Regions from separate parts of the Homo sapiens genome. Here region 2 is linked to region 1. A link means that fine-mapping ties the variant in region 1 to the expression of a gene that starts in the linked region. Tissue or cell type: whole blood. Region 1 holds a variant in brackets; the other region holds the start of a gene. All regions are shown on one strand. Distances are from middle to middle.

What was found. PIP is the estimated chance that this variant, and not a neighbour inherited with it, causes the effect.
Region 2: it holds the start of C1orf115, and the variant in region 1 is fine-mapped to the expression of C1orf115 in whole blood (TOPMed, PIP above 0.99). The same link has a PIP of 0.9 or more in lung and monocytes.

The regions. Positions count from the first base shown.
Region 1 is chr1:220,726,799-220,738,164 of GRCh38, reverse strand. No RefSeq gene overlaps it. Among named protein-coding and RNA genes, the nearest start is that of MTARC2, 16 kb to the left of the region's middle. The variant G/C (reference allele first, on the strand shown) is at 4,960.
Region 2 is chr1:220,687,321-220,695,917 of GRCh38, reverse strand. C1orf115 (chromosome 1 open reading frame 115) reads right to left here and starts at 5,555. Exons shown (of 2, transcript NM_024709.5): 1 at 5,207-5,555. The coding sequence starts at 5,515. RefSeq lists a silencer at 5,485-5,724.

The DNA of each region.
Region 1 (11,366 bases):
TCTACAGATCCAATGCAATCTCTATCAAAATATCAATGACATTCTTCCCAGAAATAAAAGAAACAATCCTAAAATTTATATGGACCCACAAAAGACCCAGAATACCCAAAGCTATCCTAAGCAAAAAAATAAAACTGAAGGAATCACTTTACCTCATCTCAAATTATACTACAGAGCTATGGTAACCAATACAGCACGGTACTGGCATAGAAATGGACACATAGACTAATAGAACAGAATAGAGAACCCACCAATAAATTTATATATCTACAGTGAGCTTATTTTCACAAAGGCACCAAGAATATACACTGGGGAAAGAACAGTCTCTTCAATAAGTGGTACTGGGAAAACTGGATATCCATATGCAGAAGAAAAAGCTAGACCCCTACCTCTCACCATATACAAAAATCAAATCAAAATGGATTAAAGACTTCAATCTAAGACCTCAAACTATGAAACGACTAAAAGAAAACTTTGGGGAAACTATCCAGGACATTGGACTGGGCAAAGATTTCTTGAGTAACACCCCACAAGCATAGGCAACCAAAGCAAAAATGGACAAATGGGATCACATCCAGTTAAAAAGCTTCTGGACAGCAAAGGAAACAATCAACAAAGTGAAGAGATAACCCACAAAATGGGAGAAAGCATTTGCAAACTACTTGTCTGACAAGGGATTAATAACAAGAATGCATAAGGAGCTCAAACAACTCTATAGGAACAAATCTAATCTGATTTTAAAATGGGTAAAAAATCTGAATAGACATTTCTCAAAAGAAGACATGCAAATGGCAAACAGGCATATGAAAAGGTACTCGACATCACTGATCATCAGAGACATGCAAATCAATACTATAATAAGATATCACCTCAGCTCAGTTAAGATGGCTTTTATCCAAAAGACAGGCGGTAACAAATTCTGGTAAGGATGTAGAGAAAAGGGAACCCTGGCACACTGTTGGTGGGAATATAAATTAGTACAGCCACAATGGAGAACAGTTTGGAGGTTCTTCAAAAAACTAAAAATAGAGCAACCATAAGATCCAGCAATCTCATTGCTGGGTATATACTCAAAAGAAAGGAAATCAGTATATGAAAGAGATATCTACACTCTCATGTTTATTGCAGCACTATTCACAATAACCAAGATTTGAAAGAAACCTACTACATGTCCATCAACAGATTAATGGATAAAGAAAATGAGGCACATATACACAATGGAGTATTCAGCCATAGAAAAGAATGAGATCCTGTCATTTGCAACAACATAGTCAGTACCGGAGGTCATTGCATTAAGTGAAATAAGTCAGGCACAATAATACAAACTTCACAGGTTCTCATTTATTTCTGAGATCTAAAAATCAAAACAATTGAACTCATAGAGATAGAGAGTAGAAATATGGTTATCGGAGGCTGGGAAGAGTTGGGAGTTTGGGTAGTGGGGATGGTTAATGGGTACAAAAAATAGAAAGAATGAATAAGGTCAACTATTTGATAGCACAACTGGGTGACTATAATCAATACTAATTTAATTGCACACTTCAAAAGAGTGTAATTGGATTTTTTGTAACACAAAGGATAAATGCTTGATGTGATGGATACCCCATTTACCCTGATGTAAATTTTTTATTTTTTATTTTTTATTTTATTTATTTATTTATTTATTTATTTATTTATTTATTTATTTATTTATTTTGAGACGGAGTCTCCCTCTGTTTCCCAGGCTGCAGTTCAATGGAGCGATCTCGGCTCACTGCAACCTCCACCTCCCGGATTGAAGCAATTCTCCCACCTCAGCCTCCCAAGTAGCTGGGACTACAGGCGCCCGCCACCACGCCTGGCTAATTTTTGTGTTTTTAGAAGAGGCAGGGTTTCACCAGGTTGGCCAGACTGCTCCGAACTCCTGACCCCAAGTGATCCGCCGTCTCGGCCTCCCAAAGTGCTGGGATTAGAGGCATGAGCCACCGCGCCCGGCTTTTTTTTTTTTCTGTTTTCTTGAGACGGAGCCTCGCTCTGTCACCAGGCTGGAGTGTAGTGGCGCGATCTCGGCTCACTGCAACCTCCGCCTCCCGGGTTCAAGCGATTCTCCCGCCTCAGCCTCCTGAGTAGCGGTACTACAGGCACGCGCCACCATGCCCAGCTAATTTTTGTATATTAAGTAGAGATGGGGTTTCACCATGTTGGCCAGGATGGTCTCAATCTATTGACCTTGTGATCCACCTGCCTCGGCCTCCCAAAGTGCTGGGATTACAGGCATGAGCCACTACGCCCAGCCCCTGATGTGATTATTATGCATTGCATGCCTGTATCAAAATATCTCTTGTATCCCATAAAAACATACACCTACTATGTACCCACAAAAATTAAAAATTAAAATAAAAACAGGAGTTTGAGGCTTTAGTGAGCTATAATCATGCCACTGCACTCCAGCCTGGGTGACAAAGCAAGACTGTGTCAAAAACAAAAGTCCCCTTAAAAAAGTGATTGAAAACAAGAAAGGAAGGAAGGAAGGGGGAGAATGAAATGATAAGCTATGTATAGTGATCTTCAAAGTTAAAGAATATTTTTTAACTTGAAACATTAGTAAGTACAATGTTAATTTTTAAAAATCAATGTAGCCTTGTTTAGGGCCTTTAGGGCCTTGTAACAAAAAATATATATACACACACTTATATACATATAGATTTATATGTAATATATTTCTATTTATTTAATATAAATATATATTATATATTTACATTTATTTAATAGAAATATATTATATAAGTACATAGTTATATAGTATAATTAATTATTAATTATAAATATATATTTAGAATATACATAATTTATAGTATATATTTACATATATACATATTTACATATAATACATACTATAAATTATATCTTACATATTATATAAATATAAACATTTATACATATTATACACATGTATAATATGTATCCCTGTGCCGTTTTATCCATTCATAGTGACTAACATCTCTGCATGCCCACAAGTTTCTCTTCCTCCCTGTGAGGATTTGACCTGGGAGAACAAACCAGCTCAGCTCAGGGAGAGTTACTTGTGTATTAGTCGGGCACCTCTTTAGATTGCAAGGAGAAGACACACATTCAGATTAGGTTAGGTTTGGGGGTTGTCATCAGGATACCCAGGGAAGTAATGCCTCAACGGCCAAACGTGTGTCCCAGAACAACATCTGAGGCGGCTAAGAGCTCAAAAGGGCTCCAGGAGAACAAGCACAAGGGTCAGTTGTTGTCCAAGCGTGAGCAACTTTCATTCACGCCCTGCTATACGCTAGATGCTAGTATGTAGTCTTTAATAATGATAGAGGAAGATAGAGTGTCTGATCTTGAGAAGCCAGTAAATCGCTAAGGTAGCATATCGGGAAATAGCCACTTCAATCCTGGCTGGAAAGTAGAGAGCAAAGGCCAGGAGAGAGGAGTGTACTAGGAAGGTAAACAAGCACAGATGGTAGAAAAAATTATACTGCACGCAGAGGAATGTGGACTTCATTCCACATAAGTGAGTAACATCATGTACCAATAAGAAGAGAAACTGGGTGGCTGGAAACATGAATATAATGGAAAGTTTTCATTTGTATACTTAAGCTTTTTGAATTTTGAACTGTGAAAAGTATTACTTGTTCAAAAAATTCAAAAATAAAATTATTTAAAAATCCAATGCAATGATTCTGGTGGTGTACTAGGCTCTGGGAGAGCGAAACAGCAAATATTCCCTATCAGCCTACAATCTACTAGATATTTTTAAAGTTTTATGGCTCATCGGTGACACAACACAGCTTTAGGTAGATTCCCAATATCAAAACATGTGTAAACAAATAATTATAAGAAAAATAGTAATTGTTTTCCTAAAGATATGGGCTTAGAGCTTTGAAAGTGCATGTTGTGGGCTGGGCAGCTTATTCTGCTTGAAGGTTAGTGGGAGGTAACATGTAAACTGGGATACGAAGAACGCATGCATAGGAGCTTCAAAAATGGAAAAGAGAGTAAAAGCAATTAATCAACGAGAAATACAATTTTCCAAAAAAAAAAAGAAATGTTTTTGGAGGAAAATAGTTTCGTATGATGATCGGACCAGCAAAGGGAATGACAGGAGGTGAGGCTAACAGTCGGGATGAGAACAAATTGTGCAGGCTTTGCCTGTTGTCTTAAGAACTATGAATTTCTACCCCAGAAAGCTCAAAAAACCCTTCATGGGCATTGGCATTCTGGAAGTTGGTGAATATGTACCTTTAGGAAAATGGATTTTATCTCCAAATAGTGGGGAAAAAAATTAATGGGAATTTCTTTTTCTATTTTGAGTTTTTTTCCCCATAATTTTTACTGAAACTTTCTGGTTTTATTCTGGTTAATATAGGAAGTTAAGAAAATCAGTATATAGCCAGCAAATATAGATGGGAAAACTCAGAAGCAAGTATGTTAAGAATGTTTGTTCTTTTTTTCTCCTTGTCAAATATGTTCACAGTTGTGATTTTTATATATCATATAAGATATCTTCTGTTACCAGGATCGCTCCTTGTCAATGTGTTGGGATTAACTATCATCAATGTTTCATCTTTTCCACAAGAAATCAAAGCTTCCTGACGGTTTGCAGCCCCCCCACAGCCTGGCCCATAGCTTGTTTTATTTGGCTTACACAGTTGTTTTAATCGGGAAGTGTCTAGCTTGTCTTTTAAAATCAAAATATCTGGCAATATGAGGTCTATATTCAGCATAATGAGAAGCAAACGGACCTGACTGGAGCCTGTCCCCTGTAGGCATCACCGCCCTGTAGGAGCCCCAGTTCCCGCCCACCCAGAGTTCAACCGGACCCCCTCCTTCAGCTTTTGACTTTGGCCCGGGTTAGACGGGGGATTTCCCGGGCAGTTGCTCCGGATTTACACGAGGGGGCGCTGTGATCAGGGTTTTGGACGGAAGGGTGGGGAGGAAATGCTTGAA[G/C]CTGGTTCTAACCGGAAGTGAAAGGAAACCCTCCTTTCCTTTCTGGTGAGTAAGTCCTAAGGAACAACCTCCTGTTACCCAACTCAGTGAAGAGTCGGGACTAAGAGTATTTTGAAATAGGAGGAATACTATATTTGAAATGTCAGAAGTCATAGAAAAGTGTGGGAGAAACAATGCCACACTTTTCTATTTTCCCTGCCATTTGAATAATACTTTGCAGTCTATAAAACTCTGTCGGAAGCAGAAGGCTATTCGGTCCTCACAGCAATCCCATGTCCGAAGTAGGAGAAGGCACTTGCTCCTGCAATAGCCGAGCCACTCAGAGTTCCTCGTCTCACCTAGGAGCGCCTACCCAGCCAGAAAGGGGAGGTCCCATGGCTGCTTCCTCACACTTTCCTTTTTAGGGGAGGAGGAGGAGGGGGAAAGGCCCTGGAGAAGGACAGGGTGCCAAGAATATGTGGCGAGAGGAAGGGACAGGCCAGAAGAAATAAGTTGAGAGATCAGTCCCAGGAAACTTCCTACCTAGAAGATGCCCTTCCTTGGCTGGGACTTGTGCCTCTCCCTGTGTATCTCAGGCACAGTCAATCTCAGTTTGTATTTGTTAAGTAAATAAATTACCCGAGGCATCTGTTGGGTCTTAACCTGTATATGGGAAGGGCCCTGTTATTCCATCAATATTAGTTACAAAATTATGGGGGCTTGGGCTGATGACACTGAGGGTCCGGGGACCTTCTCACCTCTGGTCAACCCTGCCCTGGATGGCCCCTAAGCTCTATCAGTGGCCCTGACTGTGTGTCTTTGTGGCTTTGATTTTGACGATGTTATCAACCAGGATGCAGAATCCTGCTTCCTCTCCCAGTTTTCATTTGCTTTTTTTCTGTGTTTGTTTTCTTTGGCTGCTACAGGGAGATTTGCTTTTCATCTTGGCAGCACGTGCCCCACTCAGAGTGGAAGAAGGCTATGGCAGGATACAGTGTTTTGGGAAGGGAAGAGAATCTCCTTGCTTGGGGACATCCTTTCCAAAACAAATTCCCTGTAAAGTCAAGTCCTGCTAGTGTTTCCCTCCAACCTCTCTGTGTTCTACTACTCGCCCAAGAAAAAAATTATACGAAGTGTCTCCTCACCCATGTTTAGTCACAAAAGACCTCTGTTTCCCAGGCTCCCTTTCATTCTACTTATTCATCAGTTCATCAATTGATTCGTCCATTCATTCATTTATTCTGTGACAGTCTTTACTCTTTCCTAAGTATGACCAGAAAATAATGACGTAAGTATGATCTACTCTACAGCATGTAGGTTGTAAGCATTGTTATGGTCTTTTTTAAAATTAAGATACAACTCACAAAACATAAAATGTACCATTTTAAAGTGTACAATTGTATTTGTCCATTTTCATGCTGCTGATAAAGACATACCCTAGACTGGGTAATTTATAAAGAAGAAGAGGATTGAGGGACTCACAGTTCCATGTGGCTGGAGAGGCCTCACAAACATGGCGGAAGGTGAAAGGCACATCTTACATGACAGCAGGCAAGACAGAGTGAGAGCCAAGCAAAAGGGGAAACCCCCTATAAAACCATCAGATCTTGTGAGACTTATTCACTACCACAAGAACAGTATGGGGAAAACTGCCCCCATGATTCGATTATCTCCCACCGAGTCCCTCCCACAACACGTGGGAATTATGGGAGCTATAATTCAAGATGAGATTTGCGTGGGGACACAACAAAACCATATCAACATTCCATTGTTTTGTAGTATATTCACCCTATTATGCAACGATCACTTCTCATTCCAGAATATTTCTATCACCACAGAAGGAAACCTCATACCTATAGCAGTCAGTCCCAGCTCTGCTCCCCTTATCCCCTGGCAACCACTAATTTGCTTTCTGTCTCTGAGGATTTGCCTATTCTGGACATTTCATATAAATGGAATGACACAATATGTGGCTTTTTGTGTTTGACTTCTTTTATTTAGCATAATGTTTCCATGTTTCATCCCTGAGCATACAGCATATAACAACAGAACATTCCTTTTTATAGCTGAATAATATTTCATCATATGGATAGGCCACATTTTGTTTATCTAGTCATCAGTTGATGAACTTTGTTCTGGCTGTTATTAATAATACTACTATGAACACTCATGTACATATTTTCTTTTCTTTTCTTTTTTTTTTTTTGAGTCAGGCCTTGTTCTGTTGCCCAGGCTGGAGTGCAGTGGCACAATCACAATTCACTGCAGCCTTGACCTCCTGGGCTCAAGCAGTCCTTCCAGCTCAGCCTCCTGAGTAGCTGGGTCTACAGGCACACACCACCACACCTGGCTAATTCTTGTAAGATAACATATTTTCAGTACTCATGGGTCTATATTGGAGTGGATTCATTGGGTCCTGTGCTAATTCTGTGTTTAACTTTTTGAAGAAAAACTACCAAATGATTTTCTACAGTGACTGTACCATTTTAGATTCCTTCCAACAATGTTGAAGTTCCCTTTCTTTCGTAACACAAGCAATTTAAGGGATTGCTTAAATGGTCTTAGATGAATCTGTCATCAAGGTGGGGGAGGGCATGAATTGATATTTGCACAGTGCCTGTGCAGAGACACCTGACAGTAACCCTTAGGACGCTGGATAATTTATCCCAAGCCATGGTGAGGAAAATGGGAAGGAATAAGGCAGTCAGTAACATGGAGCAGATTTGCCAATCTCTTACCCTCATCAATTTAGGGATTGTGTTGGTCTTTAACAGATGGAGAAGAGGTCTGAGAACATTTAATACATGTCCACTGCTGAAGGAGCAAAAGAGTGTAGGCCTGCATTTTGCCTCTCTCCTGTAAGACTTCTGAGGTGCCTTTGAACCCAAGCCTCAGAGAATGAACAGCAGTGGCAAAGACAATGCCCTTTATAAGTGTGTAGAGGGTTGAGGAAATGGTTGGGGTGGGGGGCTTTTCTGTAGAACTGCCCTCTTTTCATGTTCCCTTCAAAGGGTACAGTGAAACAGAATACTGTATTGTCAACTAATTTATAAAAAAATGGGCTCAATACATCCTGCTATAGAAATTCCATCAATGTACTAGAAAACTTACATTTATCAGAGTTCATCTATTGAATAGCAGCTGGAGTTGTGTGTGTTCATGGATGTGGAATGAGAATACAGAAGTTCAATCTTTATAAGCACACAGCAGAAACACTGTAGGTAGAAGGGTCAATTTGAGACCATCCCTGCCCATCTTTGATTGGCCTGTGAAACACAACAGGAAACTAATTCATCTGAAAGATGTGCTAAAAACACTTGTTGGCTTTAACAAAAGGAATCTTGGCTGATTTTACATTAAAACTTCTAACAAAGGAAAATAAATGCTCTTGGGTGGAGAACATGTCTTTATAACCAAACTCCACAATTGTTACCATATAAATAATTTTTCTTTATAAAAGAATAAAAATATATATGTACCTACATATATGTATGTGTATATGTAAAAGACAAATATAAAACTTCAAATAAATTATTTTGCTTTGGATAACTCACTTGAGCCTTTGACAGTGTGAGAATGTTTTTCTTGGCCGGGCGTGGTGGCTCATGCCTGTAATCTCAGCACTTTGGGAGGCCAAGGCGGGTGGATCACTTAAGGCCAGGAATTTGAGACCAGCCTGGCCAACATGGTGAAACCCATCTCTACTAAAAATACAAAACTTAGCTGGGCGTAGTGGCACGCACCTGCAATCCCAGCTACTAGGGAAGCTGAGACCAGAGAATCGTTTGAACCCGGGAGGTGGAGGTTGCAGGGAGCCAAGATGGCACCACTGCACTCCAGCTTGGGTGACAGAGCAAGACTCTGTCTCAAAAAAAGAAGAAGAAGAAGAAGGAGGAGAGAAAATGTCTTTCTTTGTCTCTCAGTAATCAAAATGGGGAATCAATATATTTAGTAATGCTCACCCCACCTGGCCTCATCAGCATCTTCCCCACGATTATCTCTTTTAGTGTTGTTTGCTCACCACAAGCTGTAATATTGATACATATGAATTATGACTGAGCATCTATTATATGCAAGACTCTTACATTTGCAAAACAAATTTGGGAGCATTCTTCTCCCTACAATCTTAGAATCAAGTGTATAAAATATACATATACATAAATGTATAAATAAATAAATATAATACAAGGTGGAAAGTGATGAAGGTCATGTGGGAGGTTGGAACCTAGTGATATAGAGATTCAAAGGGAGGAAAAATAACTTTTGGTGTGGAGTCAAGAGAAAGATTCTATTCTTGTTGAGAAAGGCTGAAAAGCATATTTTGAATGGGGAGCTCACTCTGGTACCAGGGCAGCTATTAAGAGAAGTTTTAAAAGGAAATGCCCAATTAGACTTGTGGTGACTATGCTAGATACTCAGTTAAAAGAAGAGAGAGTTTGTACATGTGCCTCATTTAGGCCTTGTTCCCTTCCTTTCGCTGCATGAATAATTAGTTTTTGAGACCTAAAAGTCCATCTTCCACCCAATTAGTTCCTCTAATTAAAAGCCATCATGATGACAAACGTTTTCTCTCACATCCTTCATTTTTCCAAATCTAAATGCACAGCTTCTAGAGGTTCTCTTCCAGTTCAAAGTTTTTACAATTTGAGAATAATGAAAAATGACCAGCTTTCCCTAATCATATGTATAGGAAAGTGTGTACCTTAGGATTTTGATACTCCTTGAGGAAGGCCATGTGGATTTCTTTTCTTTTCTTTTTTTTTTTTTGAGATGGAGTCTCGCTCTGCCGCCTAGGCTGGAGTGTAGTGGTGCGATCTCGGCTCACTGCAAGCTCCGCCTGCCGGGTTCACACCATTCTCCTGCCTCAGCCTCTCGAGTAGCTGGGAATACAGGTGCCCGCCACCATGCCTGGCTAATTTTTTTGTATTTTTAGTAGAGATGGGGTTTCACCGTGTTAGCCAGGATGGTCTTGATCTCCTGACCTCATGATCTGCCCACCTCGGCCTCCCAAAGTGCTGGGATTACAGGCGTGAGCCACCGCGCCCAGCTGCCCGTGTGGATTTCAAGTATCATACAGAAAGCCCAAGTCCACAGCTTGGAATGTTCCTAGTCATTATTAGGATGATTAATGAAAAAATTCCAAAAGCCAATATGGACTCAGATTAGAAGCATCAAAAACTCCCCACTCTGGCTCACTTTATCGTGACTCTGCTGAGCATGTGGTATAATAAAGACAGTGGGTTAATTAGGAGAGAATATTATAGTAAGGAAATATAGGTCTCACCTATAGAAACTTCAGGAAAGGTTTACTGCTTTAGCTTGGCTTGACATGGTACAAAGCCCACTTCCATAATTCATTCATGCAACAAACTATGTCTGGTAGGTACTGAGGATCTAATGGTAAACAAGAGAAAAACAATCCTGCCTTCAAAGCGGCCACAATGAAATCATCAATGTTTTCCAGGTTTCTTTGGGCCAAGCTGACTGCTTTCTTTTGCAATATCCTAAAGTGCTGAGGAAGCAATAACTAAAAGGAGGAGTCTTTGGCAATGATAACAGCAATCATTATAAAAACAGAGGCCTGGTTTCCAATAATATTAAATAGTAGACTAGAAAACTAAGACACATACAAGAATGTTTTGGGCAGCATTATTGGTGATAGACAAAACCAACCCAAATGTCCCTCAACAGCACAATAGATAGATAAGTTGTGGTGTATTTATTCAGCAAATGAATGTACAGCAAATAAAAATGAACAAACTATAGCTACACACACACACACACGAGTTAAACTTTTTTTAAAAATGAGCCAAAGAATCCAGACAATAAAATAATACATACTGTGTGATTCCATTCCTATAAAGTTCAAAACCAGGAAAAACTAAAACACGATGTCAAGGGATACACAAGATGGTGGTGAAACCACAAAAAGACGCAATCAGGTAATAACCATAAAACCAGGCTGTGGTTTCATGTAGAAGGGAGAGTAGGTGATGTGACTGGGAAGAAGCAGGGGGAAACTTCTGGAGCCTGGAGCATTCTTTTTTGTGGCTTGTTCAGGGGTTACAGAGGTGTTCACTTTATAATGATCTGTCCACTATTACGTTTCCTGCACTCTCAACATGTGTACTGTTGGGAGAATGACAAAATAAGGAGAATGACAAGCCAATACTGACATCAGGACAGCAGAAAGGGGTCCCACTATCCATCATGTTCTGGGGCAGTGCACAGTGATCTAACAGAGTGGAAAACAGACACCTAGAGTGGGGCGTTGGTCCTTGGGCTCTGGGGCTCTTAGGCTGCATGAATGGGAGAAGAACCAGCTCCTCTCTGTCATGATCAGTAGCTGGCAGTCAATTATAAGCTGAAAAGAGAGACCCTGGGTTTCCAGCCCAATTCTAGCACCTCAGTGTTTATGGCTGGGGGAG
Region 2 (8,597 bases), 41 kb after region 1:
CAGAAAAATTACCACCACCACCACCAAACATTTATTGCACGGCTGCCCATGGTCTTCCCCTCCGTACCTCAACTTCTGTCATCACTCTTGGTGATATCAATGTCCATGCAGATAACCTGTGCCTTAGGCCACATACCTTGTCTCTCAGTCCTTTGACTTTTCCATATTACCATAACCACTCAGACTGGTTTAACTTAAAATTCCTGATCACAATCACATATCTCACCTTGACTTCCAACACCACCTGACAAACCTCCACATCTGTCCAGTAGGATGAATTTCTCTCTCCCCCGGGTACTGCCTCATACCTTTTCCCTTCTTAAGCCTCCCCACTTGCAACACACACGAACACACCCAAGTCTCCATACCTTCATGAGATGATCCCACTTCACCTTTCACAGAAAAAAAAAAAAAAAAAAAAAACCCAGACATCGTCAGGGAACACGTTCACCTTCCACCACTCTCAACAGCCCTGCCTGTGGCTGCCCCTGGCTTCTCCCGCATTGCCTGTGTTACGGTGGAGAAAGTGGTCTTCTTCCCCCAAGCCATTCCCTTGATACTTGGTGTCAGTGCCTTCTCCCACCTTGATCTTGGCTTTCCCTTCACCACCTCCATCATTCGCTTCCTCTCCATTGGATCCCATTAGCTTACATACATGCTCGGGTATCACCGTGACTCCATATCCTGCCCCAGTCTCTGCCCTCCATCGTGCCAAGCCAGCCAAAAGAGCCAACCACATATACTGCCTCCATGTCTGCGCTTCTTATTCCCTCTGACTCCGGCTCCTACCCCAACCCATGAGGGACTGTCTGGTCATGGCCATCTACAACCCCCATGCTGCCTGACCCAGTGGACGCTTTTCTGTCTTTCTCTCCCTGACCTCTCAGCAGCTTTTGACATACTTTATGAAATAATCATGTGGCGTCTTTGACTCCATATTCTTAGTTCTCCCCTACCTAAATAGGGAGCTCCTCCTCAGCTTTCTTTGCTAAATTATCCCTTCTACCAGACTTTAAAATGTTGGTGTTGTTCAATACTCAGTCCTGGGTCTTTCCTTCTCTCTTTCTTTCCCTACAGTCTCTCCTTAGATGGTCTCATCCATTTCTAATGACTACAAGTATCTCCTAGATTTGAAGAACTCTTTAGTTCAGACTCAAATATTCAATTCGTTACTTGAGATCTCCACTTTTTGAAGACCCCACAATTCCTCTGGCATGCACTCTCCCTTGTAGCCCTAAGCACATAAACCTAACGTGGATTGGCTACTGGCATGTCCCTGGTGGCCTTTGTCTATCAGACTTCAATCATTCAAAGCACAGAGAGATTACATCTGTCCACATGTATATATCTGGTTAGGGGCAGAGCTGAAGTTCAATCCCAAAGAAATCTCACTTCAGGGCCTATGACCTTAACCCCCATACTATGTTTCCCTTTTTAAATAAAGGCAATATGTAAGCTTCTAGTTAACCACTCATGCCCTGGGCTTGAATTCCAACTCTATCACTTACTTAATTTCCCATGGCCTCGGTTTCCTCACCTATACAATGGGAATATTTAGTAACCACCTCATTGGGTTGTTAAGAGGAGTAAATGAGATCATGTAAGCAAAGCACTGAGAACAGGGCCTGGCACAAACTGCAGGCAGTATAAGTGCCCCCCAATGTCAGCTATTATTACTGCTAAATAACATCTGCTTCTTTTGATTACATAGCAATTTAGGTTTGTGGTGGTGATAGATAAACCCAATATTTTTGTTGTCTGTTTGGGAAAGTTTCTTAAGACTATAATTTCCTATGACTTCTGGCTTACTTGAGCTTTTTTTTTTTTTTTTTTTTTTGAGACCGCGTTTTGCTCTTGTTGCCCAGTCTGGAGTGCAATGGCGCGATCTCAGCTCACTGCAACCTCCACCTCCCAGGTTCAAGCGATTCTCCTGCTGCAGCCTCCCAAGTAGCTGGGATTATAGGCATGCACCACCGCGCCAGGCTAATCTTTTTGTATTTTTAGTAGAGACAGGGTTCACCATGTTCGTCAGTCTGGTTTCCAGCTCCTGACCTCAGGTGATCCACCCGCCTCAGCCTCCCAAAGTGCTGGGATTACATGTGTGAGCCACCACACCCAGCTGAGCTTTCAATAGTTTAAATTACAGGGTCCCTCACAGTAACAGAAGGAGGGCAGGGACTCTGTTGTGCTCATTACTGTATCCTGAGCATGTAGAAAGAGGCTGAGTGTTTCCTTTGGTACCTCTCCCGCTAAATGAGGAGCTTTGCAAGAACCAAGTAATGTCTGTGTCTTCTCTAGACACTGCTTTCCTGGACATTACCCTGTTGATGTCTCAAAGAGACACTGGGCTGGGGCATGCGCATGTGTGGGTATGTGATGTTGCTAAGAGATACAGTTCTTTAAATGTGTGATAAGAATCACTGGGGGAATTTTACTTACATGTTTGAAACAACAAAAGAAAAACATATTCTCTGGGAACAAGCTTAACAATCAAGAGTGATCCATTATAAACAAGATCAGAATGACAATCGCCTGCATTAAACGTGACATTTTTGGTATTTGTACATCCATTTTGCTCAGCCTGTTATACTTTAAAAGCTACTTGTCACTTTGTAATTTAGGGAAAAAAAATCTACTAAAATAGTTCATTAACTGGAACACTGTTAAAAACACAGATTTGAGAAATGAAATGCAAAGAAACATAAAATATCTCTCAACCACTATTTCAGTGTCATTTAAGAGAGTGCATTTGGAATTCTTTGATCTGAGTAGAGCTTTCTACCCAACTACTCTCTCAGAGGGGAGCTGGGGTCTCGGGGAACAAAGAGGGGTCACCTGCTTTATATCTCCATGTTTGAGCCTGGTGACCCTCTCAGGTGGCTCCAAGAAAGTAGAAGCTGAAGTCACTTTTGAAGGGCAGAAAGGAGAGATCCAACCCTAACCTGACGACATCCTCTCACCTGGCCTCCTGGGTCCATTGAACTAGCGTGCAACACTCTAGAGCTTTCATGCCCACAGCTGGGCTTGTGATGGCCCCTCTACCTGAGATGACACCACTTCTCTATCCACTGAAATCTTGTTTTTTTTGTTTGTTTTAGTTAAGGCAAAATTCACATAACATAAAATTCACCATTTTAAAGTGCGTACAGCCCGGTGGCATTTAGTACATTTACATTGTTGTGCAACCACCACTTCTATCTAGTTCCAAAACATTTTCATCATCCCCAGGAAAAAACACATTACCCATTAAGCAGATGGGCTCCATTCCTCTTTCCCGCAGTCCCTGGCAACCACCAATCTGTGTTCCATCTCCATGGGTTGACCTATCCTAAGCATTCCATACAAATGGAATCATACGCACAATATGTGATCTTGCGGGTCTTGTTTACTTCACTTAGCATAATATTTTTAGAGGTTCATCATATTGTAGCATGGATTAGTACATTTCCTTCCTTTTATGGCTGAATACTATTCCATTGTATGTATATAACACACTTGTTTATGCATTCATCCATTTAGGGACATTTGGGTTGTTTCCACCTTTTGACTATTGTAAATAATAATTCCATTAAAATGTGTATATAAACATTGATTTGAGTACCTGTTTTCAATTCTTTGGTTACATCCCTAGGAGTGGAACTGCTAGATCACAGAATAAGTCTACACTGAACTTTTTAAGGAACTCCCAAATTGTTTTCCACAGCAGCTGTCCCATTTTACATTCCCACCAGCAATGTACAATGGTTCCAATTTCTCTACATTCTCGCCAACATTTGTTATTCGGTTTGTTTGGACATTTTTTGGAGTAGCCGTTCTAGTGGGGATGAAGTGTGCCTACTTCATACCACTTCACTGTTATCTGGTGAAATCTTAACTCATCCTTCTGTGCCCAGTTTTCATGTCACCGTGATTTGAAAACTTCCCTGAGTTTACAAGCTCACCGCTGAGGAGTGAACTGCCTGAGCTCTGTGCCCTGAAGCCCCCCCGGGGGCGGGGGGAGCCAGCTATGTCAGTGTCTCCCTGGGAGGCTGTGCCCTTCTCTAGGGCAGGGCTGCACTGTATTCATTTTCGCATCTCTACTGCTCAGCACAATGCCTGACGCATAATGAGTGCCCCCAAAATATCTTCAAGTCCTAGTCCTTGAGCTGAGGTTTCTGCAGTATCAGTTCACCAATGGAGAGGGACATGATGGCTTCTTTGTGCTCAACTGGGACCCAAAGCAGAGATGAATCGTCCTAGCAGGGCTCTAAGCCTGAAAGACCCAACTTTATAGTTTTACCCCTGCCTGTATTCTGCTCCAGAAGCTGCTGACATACCTTTAAAGAGGATGATAAACCTAAGCTCCCAGGCATGGAGACTGAATGGCTTCAGGTGTAAGACGGCATTGGGCAACACAGATAAATAGACAATAAATCAGATGGGGCCCGTGGCCTTTGGCCAGGACACAGTAACTTCTGTGACTTTATTCTGGGTGGCCTTGTCCAGGCCAGCAGAGCTTCCGGCAGCAGCTTCGACTGTTTCCATGCAGAGACACCTGGGAACTGCATCTGCGCTTTGATTTCCGCGAAGGAAACTGTCATTTTCTCCCATATTCATTCTTCCTAACCCCATCTCCCCGAGACAAACGGCAGAATGTTTTGAAGGCCCCAGAGTACACTGATAGTTGGCTAGACGAGAAAAATTCAACGAGCGCCTATTTATGTATTTGTTGCGCTCCCAGGCTCGGGAAATAACCTTGGGAATATTTGGGAGAGTAACCCAAACATTTCTCAACTAGTGGGATATCCTGGAGGGGATGTTACTGGAAAACAAATACACTGGGTTGCAATTTCTTTCTTTCCAACTGGGCCACCTTCTCCAAGTCACCTGCCGCGCTAACGCTTCAGTATTCCCATCTGTAATCAGGAAACTGATTCCTGATCTTACATAAAAACCACCGCGGTAGGAGCCCCTTGAGAATGTTCTTAAGAAGCCAGGAGCGCAATAGCAGGCACAGCAGGGACCACCCAGCGCAACCCCCGATTTAAGTTTCTATCACGACTCGCAACTCGCGGCTTCCCTCCGGCGAGGGAATGGGAGCGGGGGCGGAGGGGTCGCAGGTGCAGCCCGGAGAAACTGGGTGAGTCGATGGTAAGGACCCGGCTCCCGCTCCCCCGCGGGACACCACACCCGCGCCCCCCGGGCAGTGGTGGCGCAGGGCCCCTACCTTGCCGTACTTCTTCAGCTTCCTCCGGTACCTCTTCCTGGGCTGCTCGCTCGGCGCCGGCTCCTCCAGTGGCTCGTAGCGCTCGGGCAGGAGGGCGAAGTGCACCCTCCGCGCGCCCCGGGTCCCCGGGCCCCGCTCGTCCGCCGCGCTCGTCCCGCTCTCGGCCGCCGCCTCCGCCTCGTCCGCGTACTCCAGGTGCTCCAGGATGGCGGCCGCCTCCTCGTCCCCCTCGGTTCGCCCTCGCCCTCGGGGCCCGCGGCGCAGGAGGCTGCTCTCCGCCTTGCTTCGGAGCCTGGCTCCCACCGTCATGATGTCCCGGCCCCTCTGGCGAAGGTCCGAGCGCAAAGACACCAACCTTTGGTCCCCGCCCGCTCCTCCGCCCCAGCCCGGACGGGGCGGGGGATTGGGGGGGCCGCAGCGCCCCCTGGCCGTGGGGCCCGGGATAGCGTTGGCTCCGCTCCGAACTGGCCTACCAGGCGGCGGGCGCGCTCCGCCAGCCCCGCCCTTCATCCCACCTGCCGGCCAAACTGTGCAGACTACGGCGCGCACTGCACAATGAACATGCAAAACACCTTCAACTGCACTTGCTACGAAATTAATGACCCCAAATAATAGGACTCCATCTGCTCATGTTCAAATTAGCAACGATGGAAAATGATACTAGAGATCACGCTCAGTGCTAGGGAGGGCATGGCGAGATAGTCACGGTAACAGGATTCGTGGGAGTGCAAATTGGTGGCAAGGTTTTGGAGAGACGATCAGAAAATCTTTATCGTGAGTCTTAGGAAACGTCCGTATTCTAGGAAATATTCGGAAACGCAAGACAGTGTGTCCACGGTGTTCAACGGTCTGACTCAGTGAAAAAGTGGAGCAAACCAACAGGGAGGCGCAAAGGAAATTCTGGTGCAGACATGCCAGCATATGGCGCAGTCTTTAAAATCATGATTTTCAGGAATATCTCTCTGTGAGATAAGCATTATCAGTGTACTGTGAATCTCAACAAGCTGAGAGTGCCCTATTTTCTTAAGTGGGTAAATGCCTTTGAATTCTGGCTAATGTAGAATTAAGGGCCGAAAGCAGTGGCTCACGCCTGTAATCCCAGCACTTTGAGAGGCCGGGAGGATAGCTTCAGCCCAGGAGTTGGGGAACAGCCTGGGCAACATAGTGAGACCTCCATCTCTAGAAAAAAAAAAAAAAATTAGCCAGGCGTAGGGGCGCACACCTGTGATCCCAGCTATTCAGGAGGATCGCTTGGGCCTGGGAGTTTGAGACTAGCCTGGGCAACACAGGGAGACCTCATCTCTAGAAATAGAAAAACAAATACAAAAGTTTACCTGTAGTCCCAGTGAGGTAGGGAGATCGCTTGATCCTGGAAGGTGGAGATTGCAGTGAGCTATGATTGTGCCACTGCGCTCCAAAGGGGTCGACAGAGTGAGATCCCATCTCAAAAAAATACTTAGGTATAAAATAACATAGATTGTTAGATACACTGATATTTTAACATTAAAGTTTGTGATTAAATTTAAGAATAACGTGTATATGTTGGTATAAGCACATACAATGTTTACGACAATTTAGTTCACTAGGATGCAAAAGAAATTAGTTTTGTGATTCCAACTTAAAATGTGAGCCAGCATGGTGACTTTCACCTGTAATCCCAGCAACTCCACAGGCTGTGGTGGGAGGATCCCTTGAGGCTAGGAGTTCTGAGCAACGTAGGCCCCATTTCTAAAAAAGTGAAAATGTGTGGCTCGGTGCGGTGACTCACACCTGTAATCCCAACACTTTGGGAGACCAAGGCGGTGGATCACCTGAGGTCAGGAGTTCGAGACCAGCCTGGCCAATATAGTGAAACCCTGTCTCTACTAAAAATACAAAAATTAGCCAGGCATGGTGGCGTGCTCCTGTAGTCTCAGCTATTCGGCAGGCTGAGGAGGAGAATCGCTTAAACCCAAGAGGCAGAGGTTGCAGTGAGCGGAGATCGTGCCACGGCACTCCAGCCTGGGCAACAGAGTGAGACTCTGTCTCAAAAAAAAAAAAAAAAGTAATCAGCTAATTGATTTACGCTTTTATTTAACTTATGTAATAAGGTAATAAGTAATGACTTATATTTAATCTTAAAAACATAGAGTCTTTATATGTAAAATAGTATATAAAATTTATGTACAATTCAATTTCAGGTGAAATGGGTATGAAAATGAATTTAACTTACTATATTTATAAGAATTACTTAGAGTTTTGTTATAGAATTGAAGTACTTGAAAAGAAAGTCAAATATTAAATTTGTAAAAGTTGCTTGAAATGTTTAGGAGAATTAACTAAACAGTAAAAGTGCCTCCTTACAGTAATTGTAAAATTTTATCGGGTGAGTAAATAGTTTAAAACAGTATGTAATTTGAATTTAAAAGGTTAAGAGAAAGTAGATTTGTAGATTTGTAATTTTGCTAAAGCAACTATTACTTTATAAACAAACAGAGACCCTTGTAGTCCCTTTTTTTTTTGTACAAAACCGACCTCAAAGAACCCTAGGCTGCTTATCAAATGGTGATATAGTTTGGTTCTATGTCCCCACCAAATTTCATGTTGAATTGTAATCCCCACTGTTGGAGGTGGGGCCTGGTGGGAGGTGATTGGATCATGAGGGTGGCCCTTCATGAATGACTTAGCACCATCCCCTCAGTGCTATCCTAGTAATAGTGAGTGAGTTATCGCGAGATCTGGTCGTTTAAAAGTGGGTGGTGTGCACCTCCCCCTTCTCTCTCTCATCTTCCTTCTTTGGCCATGTTTGCGTGTTTCCCCTTTACTTTCTGCCATGATTGTAAGTTTCCTGAGGCCTCCCCAGAAGCAGAAGCCATCATGCTTCCTGTATAGCCAGCAGAACTGTGAGCAAATTAACCCTCTTTTCTTTATAAATTACTGAGTCTCAGGTATTTCTTTATAGCAGTGCAAGAACGGACTAATACAAATAGAGACGAAGGTAGAACATCCATGGGCCTAAAATGTGTTTTTGTCAGTACAAAATACTGTTCAAATATCACAACAACATTTAGTTTGCCTTTAAAGGCAAAACACTAGAACAATTAAAAATTGATCTCCAGATTAAGTCTCTATAACCAGTGAACAAGCAGAATTTAAGGAGATGTAATCAGAAACTGTCTTTATGTTGCATTCCCTTGTCTCTCTACAAGTTATTCTGTTCAGAGAATGAGTCTCTTGCTCCTCGGTGAAAACTTAGGTAGTCTTGTAGGGTTTTTTGTTTGTTTGTTTGTTTGAGACAGAGTTTCACTCTTGTTGCCCAGGCTGGAGTGCAATGGTGCGATCTTGGCTCACGGCAATCTCCGCCTCCCAGGTTCAAGTGATACTCCTGCCTCAGCCTCCCGAGTAGCTGGGA